Linked DNA regions of Homo sapiens: region 1 is linked to region 2. Evidence: fine-mapped expression QTL. A gene starts in region 2. The other region holds a variant in brackets. All regions are shown on one strand. Distances are between the middles of the regions. Region 1 overlaps HCN2 (hyperpolarization activated cyclic nucleotide gated potassium and sodium channel 2). Region 2 holds the start of HCN2 (hyperpolarization activated cyclic nucleotide gated potassium and sodium channel 2).

Region 1 (5,464 bases), 20 kb after region 2:
CGGAGGCTGCCGTGAGCCAAGATCGTGCCACTGCACTCCAGCCTGGGCGACAAGAGCGAAACTCCGTCAAAAAAGAAGGAATAATAAATGAAGTTAGGTCCCAGATACTCCTTGCTTCCTAGCTGAGATGTGCTGACTGTTAAGAAGGGTTAGTTATGGGAGCCCTCGGCCGCTACAGTCAGGTTAGTGGCCAGTGAGCCTTTGTCCCTGCCTGGGGAGTGCTGTGCCCCAGCGTCCAGCCACATATGGGACTTGGGATGTGTTTGGTTTGGACACAGAGCAGGTGGGCATTGATGGGGTCAGGAGCTACAGAGGGAAGACCCGCCAGTGCCCCTCCCCAGAGCCTGGCACAGCTGCCCAGGCTGAGGCAGCCCATTGTCTGGCTGCCACCCGCACATGCGGTCCCATTTCCTGAACAGAGCCCCGCGGCTCCCCTTTCCCGGCCGGGTCAGCTGAGGACTTGGTGCGGCAGGACCTCCTGGGCCGGCCTGGTGTCTCTGCCCGCCCTGCCCCTCTGCTCTGGCCCAGATGCTCCCTGGAACTTTTGCCCCCTCTTGACCTCACAGATGCTCTGATCTCAGAGGCTGCAAAAGGCGGGACCCAGACTCTCGCCCTTGGGGTCTCAGTTTCCCCAGGAGTGAAGCGGGCAGGTAGAATCAGCCCTGGCCCTCCTGCCAACTCACTGTGACAAGTGTGCAAACCATGTCATCTACCTGGGTCTCCATTTCTCTTGGTTACCTCTGAACATGGGGAGCTCACCACCTCCAGTGCTTGGCAGAGGGTGGGCGCTGGGCCCTTGAGGACCGAGGGCTCCTGGGGCGTGAGCACCTGCCCACCACCGCCCCTCCTGCTGGCCTTGCAGAACCACTCGTGGAGTGAACTGTACTCCTTCGCACTCTTCAAGGCCATGAGCCACATGCTGTGCATCGGGTACGGCCGGCAGGCGCCCGAGAGCATGACGGACATCTGGCTGACCATGCTCAGCATGATTGTGGGTGCCACCTGCTACGCCATGTTCATCGGCCACGCCACTGCCCTCATCCAGTCGCTGGACTCCTCGCGGCGCCAGTACCAGGAGAAGGTCTGAGGGAGGCGGGCCCCGGCCTGGGTTCTGATGGGGGAGGCGGGCCTGGATCTGGGGTCTGAGAGAGAGTCAGGCCAGGCCCTGGGGTCTGATGGAGGGAGGCAGGCCCGGTCCTGGGGTCTGAGGCTGGAGGGAGGCCTTGCCCTGGGGTCTGAGGGCGGAGGTAGTCCTTGTCCCGGGGTCTGAGGGGAGGGGCGGGCCCGGCCCCGGGGTCTGAGGGGAGAGGCAGTCTCAGCCCTTCACTCAGCTTCAAGTGGCGCGCTCAGGGCAGAGACCGCGTGATGGGGAGCAGGGGACCCTGGGGGTCTGTGGCTGTGATTAGGAGGAGAAACGGCCGGTGGTGAGAGGTTCTCTGACCCTGTGACAGGGAGGGAGGTCCAGAGCCTGGAGATGGACGTGGGGCGGGGGCTGGGGAGGGGATGCAGGCTGGGCAGGAAGGGGTGAGTTGGGATCAGGGCAGGACAGGGTCAGTCTTTGGACATCGGGAAGCCCCCGGGCTGAAGGGGCATTGCCAGGAGGCTGGGCCCACCTGGGGGTCTCTAGGCCGGCTCAGGATGGGGCTGGGTTAGGGAAGGGCCTGGCGGGGTCTGAGAGGCCTGGGGTTGCTTCAGGACACGCCGGTGGCCGGCAGTCAGGGCCAGGCTTCAGGGAGAGCAAGGCTGCCCCACTGCTCAGATGCGGCCTCTGGCCTGCAGCGTCCATTGGGTTAATCCTAGGCTTGGCAGTGGAGGGGACACGGGGGAGCTGGGAGGGGTGGAGGGAGATTAGGATTGGCCCCATTGGCAGCCCCTGGAGTTGGGCCTCATGCACCACTCTGTGCCTCAGTTTCCCCATGTTAGGCGGCTGGCTGGTCCTGGCTGGGAGCCAAGTGCCCCCCTCTCCCGCGCCCCGAGCAGTGGCTGGCTGGGTCAGCTGGGCCCCGTGCCAGGCGCCCTGCTGTCCGGAAGCCACGGGCCTCACACCCAAACATAAGCTGGTGCCACCACCCGCCCGCCGTCACGGGTTCCGCTGAGCTCAGGGCAGCTGCGGCCGGGCGGGGCTGGGGCGGAAGTGAGGCTGGAGCTGCCGGGGGGCACCGTCCTGGGGACAGCAGGGCCTGGCACCCCCGCCCAGCACCCACGCTCCCTTCCCTGCTCAGGAGGGGCTGACCCGATGGTTTCTGGAAAGATCATCAGGGAAGGGCCAGAGCCCCCGGGAAGGGGGTCCTGTGTGTCAGGGTACCTGGGGCCTCTCCTCGTAGAGTCAGGTGCCCACCCATTCCTCAGGGATAGGGTTGCTAGATAAAGTTCAGGGCACCCGGCCTGGTGCAGTGGCTCCTGCCTGTAATCCCGGCACTCTGGGAGGCCGAGACAGGCCGATCGCCTGAGGTCAGGAGTTTAAGACCAGCCTGAGCAACACGGCGAGACCTCATCGCTACAAAAAATTAAAAAATTAGCAGGGCAGGGTGGTGCACACCTGTAATCCCCACTACTCAGGAGGCCGAGGTGGGAGGATCCCTTGAGCCCAGGAGTTCAAGACCAGCCTGTGCAATATGGCGAGACCTCATCTCCACAAAAAATAAAAGAATCAGCCAGGCGTGGTGGCGCACACCTGCAGTCCCTGCTACTCAGGAGGCTGAGGTGGGAGGATTGCTTGAGCCCATAGGCGGAGGCTGCAGTGAGCTGTGATTGCACCACTGCACTCCAGCGTGGGCCACAGAGCGAGACAGTGTCTCAGAAAAAAAAAATGGAATTTATCATTGAAACGAATTCAACTTTGATTTAAATAGAAGCATGTTTATTTGCTCTTGTTGAATCTGGCCGCCCCTGTGTGTGGCGGAGGCCTGTCTCCCCGCTGTGGGCGGGGGCTTTGTCTGACCCAGCCCTGACCCCCCACAGTACAAGCAGGTGTGAAGGCCTATCTCCCCGCCACAGGCCGGGGGGCTGTCTGACCCACAAGCAGGTGCCCGTGTGCCCGCTGCAGGCTGGGGGCGGTGTCTGACCCAGCCTCGCCTCCCCACAGTACAAGCAGGTGCCCCTGTGCCCGCTGCAGGCCGGGGGCGGTGTCTGACCCAGCCT[C/G]GCCTCCTCCCCACAGTACAAGCAGGTGGAGCAGTACATGTCCTTCCACAAGCTGCCAGCTGACTTCCGCCAGAAGATCCACGACTACTATGAGCACCGTTACCAGGGCAAGATGTTTGACGAGGACAGCATCCTGGGCGAGCTCAACGGGCCCCTGCGGGAGGTGAGGCGGGCGCCGGGCGGGCGGGAGGCAGCCTCCGGTACAGGGCCGGCCTCCCTCTCCTGGAGCCCAGGAGCCGGTCCCTGAGGGAGGCGAGGTGCCTAGGCTGCAGCAGGAGGGACTCGAGCTAGACCTGCGTACACACCCTCCCCTCCCCGCCCCGTGAGCCTCTGCACCCCCAGGACCCCCGCCACCCCCGCCTTGCTTCCCGCTGCCCCCTTAGCAGAACTGCCTGGGTCTGTGCCTGACAGGGCGGGGCAGAAGCAGGGCAGGGGGTGGGGAGGGAGGAGCCGCAGAGGCCCCGCTGAGCACCAGGTCCTGGGGGCACTGAGGCTGATTGGAGCGGGTTTAACTCCCAGCTCTGTTCCGGTAGCCTGAGTGACCCTGGGCAAGTTTCCCAGGGTTGCGGGAACAAATACCCACAGGCTGAGTGGCTTGAACAGCGGAGATTCGGCCTCCCACCGTCCTGGAGGCCGGAAGCCCAACATCAAGGCGTGGGCCGGGCCGTGCTACCCCCCCGGAGCCCCTGGGGAGGATCCTTCCTGCCTCTTCCGGCGTCTGGGGCTCCAGGCGCCCTTGGCTTGCAGATTGATCTCCCTGATCTCTGCCTCCATCTGCTCACAGCCTTCTCCCCTGTGTGTCTCTGTCTCTTCTTGTAAATTCATCCGTCGTTGGATCAGGGCCCACCCGGTTCCTCGTGGCCTCGCCTTAACTGGGCCATGTCTGCAGAGACCCTATTTCCACATAAGGTCCTATTCACAGGAACCGGGGGTCAGGATGTCAGCCTGTCTTTCTGGGAGATGTAGTTCAACCCACAACACACATCAAACAGTTATTGAGCGCCGACTGCGTGCCCTGCCGTGTGCTTGAAGGTCCCACCCTCAGGAAGCGGGGCCTAGGGATGGCGGCCGTGATCACGCAGGCAGCAGAGAGCAGCTCTGGGAAGCGGGGAGGGACGAGGACGGGGAGGCGACATCAGCAAGGCCGTGTGTGAGCCAGGCAGGGTGTCCCCGGTGTAGCACCTGGCTCGGGCAGAGGCCCCGAGGAGGGGCTGGAGGAGCTGGGCGAGGAGGCGGGCAGGACGGGCCTGACACTAGGGACCTCGGGCCCCGGGAATGCCTCTGGGGGGGCGTGTACACCCGTTGCTCCCAGGAGGCACACACTGCGGTTCGCTTCGCCAAGAATGTTTAATTGCATTTGATGACTACGGTTTCCATTCATTCATTTGTAGAGATATAACACTCAGACCACAAAATGCATAAAATGCGGTGGCTTTTAGTATTAACAGAGTGCTGCACCCGATACCACAGCCTCACTCCAGAACATTCTCATGGGCCCAAAAGGAGACCTGGGGTGTTAGTCACCAGCTCACTCCCCGTCCCCAGCCCCTGGCAACCCACGCTACTTAGTCATTATTTAGGTGTTTAGGAGTTGCAAAGTCAAATCTTTAAACCCACATATGGCCAGGCGTGGTGGCTCACGCCTGTAATCCCAGCACTTTCAGAGGCCGAGACGGGCAGATCACCTGAGGTCAGGAGTTCGAGACCAGCCTGGCCAACATGGTGAAGCCCCGTCTCCACTAAAAATACAAAATTAGCCGGGCGTGGTGGTGGGCGCCTGTAATCCCAGCTACTCTGGAGGCTGAGACAGGAGAATCGCTTGAACCCAGGAGGCGGCGGTTGCAGTGAGCCGAGATTGTGCCACTGCACTCCAGCCTGGACAACAGAGCGAGACTCCGTCTCAAAAAAAAAAAAAGTACCAAAAAGTGCCCCAGGTCATAAGGGCACAGCTCGATAGCTGGTCCCTAAAGGGAACGTGGTGTAACCACCACACAGAACGAAGCTGGAACGTTCCTGCCGTCCTTAGAAGCTGCCTTTGCTAAGGGGAATTGCCCTGACTTCCCACACCATTGATTCATCTCCAGACCCTTGGTTTTCATGTTGATTTTTCAAAAATCACCTGATAGTCTGACCGAATGTAGCTTTCCACTGGTGTGTGTGTGTGTGTGTGTGTGTGTGTGTGTGTGAGAGAGAGATGGAGTCTCGCTCTGTCACCCGGGCTCCAGTGCAGTTGTGTGATCTTGGTTCACTGTAACCTCCTCCTCCCGGGTTCAAGAGACTCGTGCCTCAGCCTCCCGAGTAGCTGGGATTACAGGCACCCGCC
Region 2 (5,222 bases):
GGGGTTTCACCATGTTGGCCAGGCTGGTCTCAATCTTTAAATATTTTTTAAATTAAAATAAATGAGCATGGCTGGGGGGGTGGCTCACACTTGTAATTCCAGCACTTTGGGAGGCCGAGGCGGGTGGGTCACCTGAGGTCAGCAGTTGGAGACCAGCCTGGCCCAACATGGCGAAACCCTGTCTCTACTAAAAATACAATAATTAGCCGAGCGTGGTGGCAGGCGCCTGTAATCCCAGCTACTCCGGAGGCTGAGGCAGGAGAATCGCTTAAACCCGGGAGTCGGAGGTTGCAGTGAGCCGAGGTCACGTCACTGCACTCCAGCCTGGGCGGCGACAGAGCGAGACTCCAACTCAAAAATAAATAAATACATAAATAAACAGATAAATACAGAGTACTCCGGCCTGGGCAAGGGGTCAGAGTGAGTGTGCCGAGGCCAGGGAGGGTCCCCGTGCACACTGACAGGCGCTGGCCTGGGTAAGCCTGTGGGCTGCAGAGCCGTCGCCAGGATCTGGTGACAAGGACCCCGAGCCACAGCCTCCCTTGTGACTTGCGGGTTCTGCCGGCGCCTGCAGGAGGCGTCTTTCTGCTTCTCCCACTGCCAGGCATGGGCGGTTCTCGTGCCGTGCGGGTCCCGCCTCCTCCCTGCTCCCAGCCGCGAGCCCTGGGGCTCTGGCGACCTGCCCGGCCTGACATCTTCCCAGGGTGAACATAAAAGAACCCCCTTCAGCTGGAGCACGCATCTGCCTCGGGGCGGGCCACAGCCTGGCACTGCCAACTGTGCCGCCCGCCCGGCCTCTCCCGCACCACCTTGGGACAAACAGCTGTCCTGCCCGCCTATGCGGAGGTGGCCGGCGGGGCCGGCGTGGGGGCGCAGGGATCCCCAGGGTGTGGGGCAGCCAGGCCGAGGCGAGAGACACGGTCGGGCTCAGCCCATCCACTGTCAGCCGGGCACATGCTGGCCCTCCCTCAAGTACCACTGAGTGCCTCCTGGGTGTAGGAAGAGGGCCATCTCTGCCCCGGTGGCCTCGAGGTGCAGATGGGTGGGGGGCACCCGGCACACGGGACATCGTGGCTGAGAGGACGTCAGGCCAGGTGCCAGGAGGGTCCCAGGAGGGCCTCCTGCCTCCAGGTGGGGATGTTCAGCCTCCACTTCTTCGAGTGTGACTGTCTGTCTCCTCTCTCTCACTTGCCAGCTTCCTCACCTGCCCCCTCCCGGCTGTCTGGTGGGCTGGGTGGCTAGGGACAGAGGCCTCATGTCACCTGGCACCAAGCAGCACCCACGCCCAGCCGGCTTCGGCCCAGAAGCAGAGCCTTGGGAAGCACCTGTCTCAGAGCTGGGGACTGGAGGCACTGGGGGCACAGCTGCACCCGGAGTCCGAGGGGTCGGGGAAAGGAGGCAACCCCGGGGCAGGGGGCTCTGGTACCCGTGCGAAGGCGCTAGTGGGCTTTGGGTCTCCCTGTGACCCCAATCTAAAGCCCACCAGACCTAGAGGAGACCCCCGCCGCACGGCTCCCCAGGGCACTGTTTGAGGGGTGGGTGGGAACCCCACACCCTCGGGTGGCTTTTCCAGTTTTCCTTGTCTGGCTGGGCTTGGCCTCAGTTTCCTCAAATGCAGACCAGGGAGAGGAGTGCCTGAGTCTCCCAGAACGGCGCCCAAGCCGGCCTGCCCCTCCCCACGCACTCAAGGGTCTCTGTCCAGGGCCCACAGGCGACCCAGCAAGGGCTCCTGTGACCTTTAGAAACACCCTTTCGTCGTGGAAGTCTTCAAACCTCACAGAAAGCAAGGAGGCGCTGGCCGTGGCGGCCTCTCCCGTCTCCCAGGCCCGCGTCCACCCTCCCCGCGCCGGTGCCCTCCGGACAGAGGTGGAAGCCGCGGCGCAGGAGAGGCGGCTCCGGCCGGGCAGCGGGGCCCGGTGACCTTGGGCGCGTCCTTACACGTCGCGGGCCTCAGTTTCCCCTCCTGGGGAGAGGCCCGCGCGGGGCTCCGAGGCCTCGGGCCGCGTGACCTTGGGGCGCCCCCGACCCCGCGGCCCGAGTTTCCCGGCGCCGAGCGGAGGCGGCGCGCGGGGAGGGGGCGCAGCCGAGGCGGGTCTCCCGCCCCCGCCCCTCCCCCGCCCCTCCCCCGCCGCGAGGCTCCGCCCCCCGCGGCTCCGCCCCGCCCCGCCCCCGCCTCCCCCCTCCCTCGGGCTCCGGCCGGCGGCGGCGGCGGCGGCTCCGCTCCGCACTGCCCGGCGCCGCCTCGCCATGGACGCGCGCGGGGGCGGCGGGCGGCCCGGGGAGAGCCCGGGCGCGACCCCCGCGCCGGGGCCGCCGCCGCCGCCGCCGCCCGCGCCCCCCCAACAGCAGCCGCCGCCGCCGCCGCCGCCCGCGCCCCCCCCGGGCCCCGGGCCCGCGCCCCCCCAGCACCCGCCCCGGGCCGAGGCGTTGCCCCCGGAGGCGGCGGATGAGGGCGGCCCGCGGGGCCGGCTCCGCAGCCGCGACAGCTCGTGCGGCCGCCCCGGCACCCCGGGCGCGGCGAGCACGGCCAAGGGCAGCCCGAACGGCGAGTGCGGGCGCGGCGAGCCGCAGTGCAGCCCCGCGGGGCCCGAGGGCCCGGCGCGGGGGCCCAAGGTGTCGTTCTCGTGCCGCGGGGCGGCCTCGGGGCCCGCGCCGGGGCCGGGGCCGGCGGAGGAGGCGGGCAGCGAGGAGGCGGGCCCGGCGGGGGAGCCGCGCGGCAGCCAGGCCAGCTTCATGCAGCGCCAGTTCGGCGCGCTCCTGCAGCCGGGCGTCAACAAGTTCTCGCTGCGGATGTTCGGCAGCCAGAAGGCCGTGGAGCGCGAGCAGGAGCGCGTCAAGTCGGCGGGGGCCTGGATCATCCACCCGTACAGCGACTTCAGGTACCGCCTCCGGGAGGGCCGGTCGGCGCGAGGGGGCCCGGGGAGCCGGGCGCGCGGGGAGCCGTCCTTGGAGCGCCTGGGGAGGGCGGGGCGGCGCGCCGGGCCGGTGACCTCGGGGCTCCTCGGTGACCTCGGGCGTGTCCGGGACCCGCCCCGGAGTGACCCCGGCGCGCGAGGCTCCGCCTCTGGGGGGGCTCCCCGGGTGACCGCGGAGCGCCCCCCTCCCACGCACCCCGACATCCTCCGCCCTGCGGCGCGGCGGGTGGGGTGGGCCGCAGGGCCAGGGTCTGAGCGCAGAGGGGCAGAGAGGACGAATAGAGGGGAACGTGGGCCCCAGAGAGGCGGCGGAGCGGGAGGGAGGAGGAACGAAGGGCGCCCGGGAAGGACGCGCCCCAGGGAGGCCGGGGGAGAGGGGGTTAAGCGGCTCCCACGGCGTCCACCCGCGCCCCGCCTGCGAGGAGGCGCGCCCGGGGCCGCGGGCCTGGAAAGCGTGCGGGTCCCCAGGCTGTGTCCCCGGGAGCCGCTCCACCCGAGCCGCGGGCGGTGCGCGCATGCGGCGGTGGGTGTGTAGACGCCGCTGTGGATCCAGCCGGCTAATGCGTGGAAGGCTCGGAGCAGGGCCGGCGCGGGGCCACCGCCACTGATGTTTGCGGTCGTGGTTCCTGGGCTGTGCGTGCTGTGGCCGGAGAGCGAGACCGGCGCGTGTCCCCGTGGGCTGTGTGTGAACAGGGGCCCGTGACCGCGGCGGGGTTCCCGGGGCGCGAGCCTGTGGCCGGAGAGGTGTGTCTCCAGGAGTGTGTTTGCGTGGTGGTCGCGGGCGTGTGCGCCTCCGGTGGGTTTATTTTGGTGGGACGTGTGGTTTGTGTGTGTTGGGACCAGGTGGCGGGCGTGCGCGTGTACGCCCGGGGCCGGTGTGCACCGGTGGGCAGTAGTGTGAGCCGCAGGCAGGTCTCACACACGCGACCATGGAGGGATGCGTGTGTGTTTGTGTATCCACGAGTGGGGTGTGAGGTGGGGTGTGGAGGGTGCAGGTGGAGGGTGTAGGTGGGGCCCGCCGGGCTAGCGAGGCCGGGCGCGCGGGACGGGCGCGGTTTCAGCACCACGGACAGCGCGCCGGACCTGGGAAGCCTGCGGTTTTCCCGCCTGTCTCTCCTCCTCCAGGCCTGGGCGCCCCAGGACAGCCCCCACGGACCCTGGACCCCCGGAACTGGGCAGGGAGGCTGTGGGGTTCTCTCTTCCCCTGGATTCTCTGCACCCCTAGTGCTTGACTGGAGAAACTGAGGCCTGGGGCACATGCGTCCTGGACAGAGCCTGGAGGAAGGCCCTGGAATCCTCCTCCCACCCCAGGCCTTCCTGAGAGGTGAATACAGCTTTGACCAGAAGCCTGGATTTCGAGACAGGCCAGGGGTGGGAGGAGCCCCGAAATCCCCAGAGGGGCTGTGTCCGGCCCCTCCCACCCTGCCTCTGTGCCCCACCGGGAGAGCTTGGTCAGCATCTGGGCTCTGGCCTGCGAAATGTGGACAGTGAGCGGGAAGGACTGGACTTCCAGGGCTGCTGGTCGGCCTGGCCCCACTTCCAGTCGGGCAGTGGCACCCCCTGACCGGAGAGGGACGCGGTGGAGAGGGAGCTGTAGAACGTGCCCACTCCCCTCCGTCCCCTCCAGCATGACCTTCGACAGAGATGGGTGCACCGCAGCGTGGGGGCTGGCAGGTGGAGGCCCACACCAGCCACTCCCTCCCCTGGGCAGCTCCAGCGACCCCCTGGCTGCAGAGGGGCGGTCGGTGGCCTGGGGGGCAGGTGGGCAGATGGCTGATCCCGGGGCTTGGGGGGAAGGCCGGTGGTAGGAGTGAAGCCCTCTCATCCTTCCACCCTCCTTGGGCGTGGTCGCCTGGAGGCCTGGGCAGGCTGTGGCCCCGCTCTGTGCTCTGAGGCATAGAGGGCTCAGAGGCCCCTGTGTGGACCAAGTGCAGCCCCACCCCGGCAGATGAGTGTTGAAGTGGAACTGAGCAGGCAGGGAATGGGGTTAGCGGGGCCTGTCTTCGGGACTAGGGGAGTCACGGCAGTCAGATTTTAAAAAAGGATTTCGATGTTGCCAAGCTGGGTGCACGGGGCCCCTAGGACCCTCCCCAGGCTTGGGACCTGTGCCAGTGTGGAATCAGTGTGGAAAAAGACCCCCAAGAATATCTCAAAAGCTCCCTAAGCAGGCGGCCGGACCCTGCTGTGGAGGGTGTTTTGGGGCAGCCCACAGCAAGCGAAGGGGCCTCTACGTTTGCAGCTGACTCAGGAGCCTGGCCCCAACTGGCTTCGGGCCCAAGGCCTCCTGTGCCTGGCTGGGTGTCTTGG

Evidence for each region.
Region 1: its variant is fine-mapped to the expression of HCN2 in whole blood (TOPMed, PIP above 0.99). The same link has a PIP of 0.9 or more in T cells and blood mononuclear cells.

Annotation. Positions count from the first base shown.
Region 1 is chr19:607,102-612,565 of GRCh38, forward strand. HCN2 (hyperpolarization activated cyclic nucleotide gated potassium and sodium channel 2) reads left to right here. Exons shown (of 8, transcript NM_001194.4): 4 at 863-1,081; 5 at 3,158-3,304. LOC107987266 (a long non-coding RNA gene) reads right to left here. Exons shown (of 2, transcript XR_001753828.2): 2 at 2,839-4,053. Among named protein-coding and RNA genes, the nearest start is that of HCN2, 20 kb to the left of the region's middle. RefSeq lists an enhancer at 3,809-4,118. The variant C/G (reference allele first, on the strand shown) is at 3,142.
Region 2 is chr19:587,699-592,920 of GRCh38, forward strand. It overlaps HCN2 (hyperpolarization activated cyclic nucleotide gated potassium and sodium channel 2), which reads left to right and starts at 2,183. Exons shown (of 8, transcript NM_001194.4): 1 at 2,183-2,879. The coding sequence starts at 2,248. It also overlaps the pseudogene LOC100420586. RefSeq lists an enhancer at 373-952.